Homo sapiens: one gene and its partner. The protein of the gene in region 1 purifies or fractionates together with the protein of each later gene. This does not show direct contact. Each region holds a gene or a part of one and is shown in the gene's direction. Other genes may lie near its edges. The genes, in order: MOGAT1 and POTEE.

Region 1 (3,809 bases):
AGGCAAAGAAAAGAAGATTATGTCTATCTCACAGTTTAAAGGGATAAGTCTTATGATTATAAATTCACTCTAGGCTGGGCGTGGTGGCTCACGCCTATAATCCCAGCACTTTGGGAGGCCGAGGCAGGTGGATAACCCAAGGTCAGGAGTTTGAGACCAGCCTGACCAACATGACGAAACTCTGTCTCTACTAAAAACACAAAAATTACCCTGGCATGGTGGTGCGTGCCTGTAATTCCAACTACTTGGGAGGCTGAGGCAGGAGAATTGCTTGAACCTGGGGGGCAGAGGTTGCAGTGAGCTCAGATCATGCCACTTCACTCCAGCCTGGGAGAAAGAGAAAAACTCTGTATAAAAAAAAAAAAAAAATTCATTCCATATGTGAGCATGCTTAAGCTCTCTGGAAGAACCATCTGAAATGTAGTAAAACAATTAATGAGAAAAGAACAGGATTGAAATTAGCTGTAGGATAGCTCAGAGGAAAGAAGACTCACTAATTCAGAATGTACGAGTACTAGCTAAAGTAAGCAGAGAAGAACACACTTCATCTTCTTAGACCACTGAGTCTTTTTACTGGTCCCTTACCCCTACCCTGAATAGTTACATTAACCTCTCTCACTGGAATAATTTCACTAAGAAAACAGAAGCTATTTTAACAAAGCCACAAATTTGCTTAGATTTACATGTAGATTTCTCCATATCTTCCTCAAACAACAAAAAAGCTCAGTGCTGGAAGAATGCTTCAAGATCTTGGAATTCTTTTATCCTATGCATGTGAAAATTAAGGCCAGAGAGGCTGGCTGTGGTGGCTCACGCCGACCTAGCACTTTGAGAGGCTGAGGCTGGTAGATCACTTGGAGCCAGAAGTTTGAAGCCAGCAAGGCCAACATAGTGAACCCTGTCTCTACTAAAAATACAAAAAAGTTGGCTGGGCGTGGTGGCACATGCCTGTAATCTCAGCTACTGGGGAGGCTGAGGCACAAGAATTGCTTGAATCCAGGAGGCGGAGGCTGCAGTGAGACGAGATCACACCATTACAGTCTAGCATGGTTGACAGAGCAAGACTCCATTTCAGAAAGAAAGAGAGACAGAAAGAAAAACAAGGAAGGAAGGAAGGAAGGGAGGGGAAAGAAAGAGAAAGAAAGAGAGAGAGAAAGAAGGAGGGAAGGAAGGAAGGAAGGAAAGGAGGGAGGAAGGAAGGAAGGAGAAAGAAAGAAAAAGAAAGAAAGAAAAAGAAAGAAAGAGAAAGAAAGAGAAAGAAAGAAAAGAAAAGAGAAAGAGGGAGGGAAGGGAGGGAAGGGAGGGAAGGGAGGCAAGGAAGGGGAAAGGGAAAGGGAAAGGAAATTAAGGCCAGAGAGAAAGTCACCTGCTCAGGGCACTTACTGGTGAGCTGGGACTAGACCCAGCCCAGCCTTGTGCTTTTTGTGCAACTCCCGCTCCCAGTTCCACCTCATCACTACATTGGCCTCTGCTAGTCCATATTTCCAGCCACAATTGACAGTGAGATGGTTGTTTCCAGTTCTTTGTGTTGAGTTAAACAGGACTTATGTCTACTATGTATAAATGTGACATCCAAGCTATCAAAGAAAACCACATGAGCTTTTCAAGGCTATGTGTGGTTAAATTCTTAGCAATTTGAGAATATTAATGTTGCAGTAAGGATGTGTGTATGTGTGTGTGTCCTCTGTGCCCCCTCAGCTCCCATACTGATGTCATTTATCACTTCCTTCTCTGTGACTTAACATTTGTTCATATTTTGCTTAGCTAACCACCTACTCTTACTGACATGAATCAGAACCTCGTATGTGACATGGGATGACTCAGGATAGGACAAAGGTCGCTCTACTGTGGGTCCCATTCATTACCTAGAGCCCACCTGACCTCATGCCCAAGCTAATGAGGTCAGAGGCAGCAGTTTGCTGCCTCATTGAACTTCCTGTACATTTTCTTTTTTTTGTTGTTGTTTGTTTGCTTGTTTGTTTTGAGACGGAGTCTTGCTCTGTCCCCCAGGCTAAAGTGCAGTGGCGCAATCCGGTCTTACTGCAACCTCTGCCTCCTGGGTTCTAGAGGTTGTCCTGCCTCAGCCTCCCGGGTAGCTGGGATTACAGGTGCCCGCCACCACGTCCGGCTAATTTTTGTATTTTTAGTAGAGACGGTGTTTCGCCATGCTGGTCAGGCTAGTATCGAACTCCTGACCTCAGGTGATCCACCCGCCTCAGCCTCCCAAAGTGTTGGGATTACAGGCGTGAGACACTGCGCCCGGCCATCCTGTACATTTTCAACCCTTGGCATCAGTAGCAGCATCCGACCAGCAGGTGGCGCAGCGAGTGCAAGAGCCAAAGCCATGGGAATTTTTGTATTTTCTAAAAATCAGAGACAAGTGAGATGTTATATAAACACCTTTTAAAATATGTATAGAGGTTGCCAGATTTGTTTTTAATTAGTGTATTTGGAAAAACACAAATGCATTCTCATTTGTAGAAAATTTATATAACACAGTTAGAGTGAAATTTCCCCATCCCTACGTCCTTACCAAAAAGGAACTTTTATGTTTCTCTCTCTTTCCGGACTTTTTTCCATGCACTAAAAACGTATAATACTTCTAGGAATATAAACATTTTTTCCAAAAATGGATCATACTGTATTATTTTACAAATTATTTTTCCACTTAATACATTTTAGACATCTGTGTGTATTTGTGTATGTGTACACATATTTATATTATTTCATTGTTTAAAAATTTCTGCCTAGGATTCTATTGAATGACTATTACATGGTTTATTTAACAGTTTTTCTATTGAGACGTTAGCTGTTTTTCAGTTACCCGCTATTACAAACAATGGAATCCACGTCATTTATGTGTATTTCTCTAATACAGATACTTAGCTGTGAAGATATGTATTTTTTAATTGTTTAGAAAGACACTCAAAAGAGGCAGACTGGGCCTGGCCAGTCGCTCACCCTTGTAATTCCAGCTTGAGGTCAGGAGTTCAAGACCAGCCTGGCCAACATGGCAAAACCCCGTCTCTACTGAAAATACAAAAAAAAAATTAGCCGGGCATGGTGGTGGGAGCCTGTAATCCCAGCTACTCAGTGGGAGGTTAAGGCAAGAGAATCGCTTGAACTCGGGAGGCGGAGTTCGCAGTGAGCTGAGACTGTGCCACTGCACTCCAGCCTGGGTGACAGAGTAAGACTCTGTCTCAAAAAGAAGAGTCAGACTAGAGGACTGCCACGTGACGTGAGGATTCACAGTCAGTAATAATCAGGGCACTATGGTCTGGCTGTCAACTGTTCCAGAGGGAGGAAGCTGGTGACGTGGACACACAGCTATGTCCACTCACCTCCCAGCTGCAGTCAGCACAGTAGCTCATTTGACTCAAAGTCAAAACCACCAGGGTCCCGACAATCCAGTGTCTGCTGAGGAGGAAAGTTCTTTATTTGTTATCAGATGGAGTGGTGTGACCACTGCAGGCAGCCAGTGAAAGGAAACAAGGATTGGAGTGAGCAGGCTGGAGGGATTCTGATTGGCAGTTGTGTTCACAGCTGTGCATTAGGGGCGGCGGTCTGTGGTGGAGTGGTTTTAGTTCCTCACGTATGATGTATTCCCTGATTTGCAGTTGGCCGCCCGATCCCTGTTCGTCAGACTCTGAACCCGACCCAGGAGCAGATTGAGGAGTTACATCAGACCTATATGGAGGAACTTAGGAAATTGTTTGAGGAACACAAAGGAAAGTATGGCATTCCAGAGCACGAGACTCTTGTTTTAAAATGACTTGACTATAAAAAAAAATTAAAAAATAAAAATAAAT
Region 2 (4,387 bases), about 91 Mb from region 1:
ACTCACCACCCTTTTCCCCATCCACTTACCCACTTTCCCCACTGTTTTTTCCCACCGTCTTTTCCCTTTCTCCCTGGCCACCTTCTTTTCCCCCATCCCACTCTCATCACCCTCTTTTGCTCCTTCATCTAAGCAAAAACATTTTCTCCCGTCTTTTCCCAAACCCTTCTCCTCACTCCTGCTGCTCACCACTTTTTCGCCCTTCATCTACCCGAAAACTGTTTTCCTCATCGTCTTTTCCCCCGCTCCTCCTTGCCACCCTCTTTCCCTTCTCTACCCAAAAACATTTCCCCATAGTCTTTTCGCAAAGCCTTCTCCCCACTCCTGCTCACCTCCCCTTTTCCCCCTCCATCCACCCCCCAGAATATTCCCTACTGTCTTTTCACAGTCTTCCCCCCTTCCCACTCGTCCTCTTCTTTGCCCTATCCTGCTTGCCACTCTCTTTTTTGCCTTCCATCTACCCCAAACTATTTTCCCATTTTTTCCCCAACTCTCTTTCCCTGCTCCCTCTCGTCACCCTCTTTCCTCCTCCTCGTTACCCTCTTTCCCCCCACCATCTACCCAAACACTTTTTACCCACTGTCTTTTCTTTCTCCACCGTCTTTCTTTCCTGCCCACTATCTTTTTGCAAAACCTTGTCTTCCTCCCGCTGGCTACCCTTTTCCCTTCCCCCACCTGTTACCCTCTTTTCCCCCTCTATCTACCCAAAACCTTTTCTCCCCACTGTCTTTTCACAAAACCTTCTCTCTCTACTGCTCAACGCTGTTTCTCCCCCCCACCACCCTCTCTTTCCTCCTCCCTTGCCACCCTCTTTTCCTCCTCCATCTACCCATAAACATTTTACCCACCATCTTTCTGCAAAACCTTCCCTCCCTGCCGCTCCCCACCCCGTTTTTCTCCCTCCATCTACCCAAAAACTTTTTTTCCCACTATCTTTTCCCCACCGCCTTTTTGCAACGCGCTCTCCTGCTCACTATCCTCTCTTCCCTTTGGCACTAACCACCCTCTTTACCCCCTCCATCTATCCCAAAACTCTTTTCCTCCTCTTACCGCTTCCGCCGCACTGCCGTCTCGGTCGCGGTTACCACCAGTCGCAGCGAGGCGAGCCACGGTGTAGCGGCTCCAGCCTCCAGCGTACGGCTGGTGATTACCCATTCCTGGTCCTCTAAGCCGGGCACTGAGCAGCTCCACAGGAAAATACGGGAACGTGGAAGAGCCTGACTTCCCTTCAGCAGCAGGCGTATACCGCGGTTATATACAGGAGGATTCCTGACTGCATGTTCTGATTGGATGAGAAAAACCCTCCAGGGTTACTTGGATTGGACTTTATTATCATGTTCTGATTGGATGAGAGCCAGTCTTAAGACAACCAATCACAGCATGAAAATAAAGTCCAATCAGAGTAGGCCTAGAGGTTTTTCTCTCATCCAATCAGAACATGTAGTCTGGGAACCACATGTGCGTAACCTCAGTACGTAAAGCATGCGGAGGTGGCGTCAGGTCATTTCAGGCTCTTAAGTGTGGGCGTTTGGTAACCGGCATGGCTGCTACCTGTTTCTGGCTGGAGCCTCGGACACTGGCTCACTGCAGTTGGTGGTGTCCACAGAGCGGTAGGAGGGCAACTAGTAGCGGGAGCTTCTCCTGCCAGGCAGGAAGACGAGTAGAAGGGAGCAGCACCGACGCATGCTGGAGGCTGGAGCCTGAGCCCCTGGGGCTCGCCTTGCTGTGTTTGGTGGTGACGTGGGACACTGCAGCTCGGCCAGAGTGGTAGAAATGTCCTGGTGTAGGTGAGTTATCCGGGGATGTACTGCCCGCCTGTGGGGGCAGGGGTTGGGTGTCCTATTGGGGCTCACTGCCCGAGGCTGCACTGCCTGTGTCAGGGGGCTGGTTGGGGGCACTCTCCGAGGTTGCATTGCTGGCGGTGGAGGGGGGCGGTTTTGGCTGGCTGTCCGGGGCTACACTGCCCGTGGTGGCGGGGGTGGTGGGGGGGAGGCAGGTTGTGTGCACTAACGTGTACTGCCGGTGGCGGGGGAGGGGTTAGGGGCACTATTTTCTGCTGCACTGCCCGGGGCAGGGAGTGGTTTGGGTGGTTATTTGGAGCTACAATGCTGGCAGCGGGGGGTGGTTTAGGAGTGTTGTCGGGTGCTGCACTGCCCTTACTCAGGGTGCGCTATCAGGAGCTGCGCTACCTGTGGTGGGGTGGGGGCGGCGATTTTGGGGCACTGTCTTGTGCAGCAACACCTGTGGCTGGGTCAGGTTGTGGGCACTATCGGGTGCTACACTGCCTGTGGAAGGGGTGGTTGGGGGGGGGTATTGGGGTTACACTGCCTGCAACTGGCACAGGGTGTGTTGGGTGTGCTGTCCGGGGGCTACACTGCCGGCGGCAGGGGTCAGGTTAGGGTTGCTATGGGGGCTATACTGCCAGTGGTGTTGGTCGGCTGCAGAGGTGGTGGGGACAGCAACAGCCATGGTCTCCTTGCTCCTTCGGGTAACTCTTCTCTTTTCCAGACTCCAGAGTTCCTGCTCGTGCAATCTTGAGCAGGGCAGGGCCCCCACACCCACTGCGGTTCTCCGGCCTGCACCTCCCGCCCACACCCCATGCTCTGTGTTGGGGAGACCACCTGGGACTACCGGGTGGGGATTAGTGGGCATCGCGGGGGACTGTGGGAACAGGGCACTGTGGGTGGAGGTGTCAGGAACGGGAACCAGCAGTTGAGTGGGGAGGGCTGGCTGGGTCTGAGTTTCTCCTACTCCTGCTCCCCAAGGAGTGCAGCCCTGGTGGGCCCAGCAATTTCTGGCCAGTTGCACCTGGATGGGGGTGGTTTCAGCATAGGCACTCACACCCGCCCCAGTTCCTGGCCACCTTTTGCCAGAAAGAGAGGCTGGACTTCGGTGGGTGGGTGTGAGTGCCTTAGCTGAAGCTGGTCCCTGCCACCCAGTGGCCAGCATGACAAGGTGAGGCTCTAACGTTACCACTCCCTGCATCCCATTCTAGGCTTTTCTGGCTTTGCCGGTCTAGCTGCTCCAAGCCAGGCTGGAGGAGGAGGAGAAGGAATCACCTGTGGTACGCTGGAGCCTGCATGTGGCGTGACTCTGCAGCTCGCCTCGTGTGACTGATGGCAGCCACGGAGACTGCAGCTCGACAGGAGTGGTAGGAGGGTGCCCGCGGGGGCAAGGTGGTAGGAACCTTGTAGGGTGGGCTGCTGCATTGACGGCGACAGCAACTGTATTGGCATTGGTGCTAGTGGTGGTAGTGGCAGAAAGTCTGGGGACTGGGAAGGGGGAGTAGGAGCACTGCAGGGCCCAGTCCGACCTGGGGTGGGGAGGAACCTGCTGGTGCTGTACCATGGGCCTCGGTGGCAGTGGTGGAGGTGCACTTAGGGAAAGGAGTCCTCCCCCTTCTCTTGCAATCTCTGGAGGGTGGCCTCCTTCTGAGCCAGGCATGAGTGGCAGCATTGTCTCATTCTTAACAAAATTTAGGGGGTGACTGTGTGTGTGTGTGTGTGTGGCTTTTTTTTTTTTTTTTTTTTTTTTTTTTGAGACAGAGTCTCGCTCTTTTGCCCAGGCTGGAGTGCAGTGGTGCGATCTCGGCTCACTGCAAGCTCTGCTTCCTGGGTTCACCCCATCCTCCTGCCTCAGCCTCCCTAGTAGCTGGGACTACAGGCGCCTGCCACCACGCCCAGCCAATTTTATTTTTGTATTTTTAGTAGAGATGGGGTTTCACAGTGTTGGCCAGGATGGTCTAGATCACCTGACCTCATGATCCGCCCACCTTGGCCTCCCAAAGTGCTAGGATTATAGGCGTGAGCCACCACTCCCGGTCATTTTTTCCTTCTTTTTTGTTGTGATGGTCTTGGACTTTTTCAAATTTTGTGAATTGGGGAGGGGATAAAAGGTGTCATAATAGGCCTTCTAATTCCTGCACCTGTTCTTTTTGCTTTTTCTAGTCTGTGTATTCTTCTCATCTTCTTGTTCCTCTTCATTTTCTTTTGCTGCTGCTTCTATTTCATGTTTCTATTCTTGTTTCTCCTCCTCTTTTTGTTTTCTTTATGCCAAGCAATGGCCTTAACAAACAACAAGCCAAAATTGTCACTGTGTTGTATTTTTAAAATAACTGGTCCTTTACTATGTTTTAGGGATGAGGAAAAAAATCAGTTGTATAATTAGTTACTTGAATAGCTATGCTTTCATGATTGTGTTAAACCACTTATGCCTAGTGTTCCATTATTGGAATGGTAAGCATGAGGGAGTTAATTACATCCTACTGCTCAAGGTCATTAGAAGGTTTGATTTTTCACTCGTGCAAAAATTCAAAAAATTGCAGCCTCTGGCATAAATGGGCTAATGCGTTATAAGTAGTTATTCAGAGAATCAAAAAATGAAGCAT

The links.
Region 2: the proteins of MOGAT1 (region 1) and POTEE purify together in Homo sapiens (affinity purification with mass spectrometry; one large-scale study listed by BioGRID and IntAct). This does not show direct contact.

The regions. Positions count from the first base shown.
Region 1 is NC_000002.12:222,706,119-222,709,927, forward strand, and holds part of MOGAT1 (2-acylglycerol O-acyltransferase 1), read left to right. Parts: intron 1-3,617; coding exon 3,618-3,772; 3' UTR 3,773-3,809. UniProt on the Homo sapiens protein: Involved in glycerolipid synthesis and lipid metabolism. Catalyzes the formation of diacylglycerol, the precursor of triacylglycerol, by transferring the acyl chain of a fatty acyl-CoA to a monoacylglycerol, mainly at the sn-1 or sn-3 positions.
Region 2 is NC_000002.12:131,208,033-131,212,419, forward strand, and holds the start of POTEE (POTE ankyrin domain family member E), read left to right. Parts: upstream 1-1,503; 5' UTR 1,504-1,787; intron 1,788-2,995; 5' UTR 2,996-3,151; intron 3,152-4,387.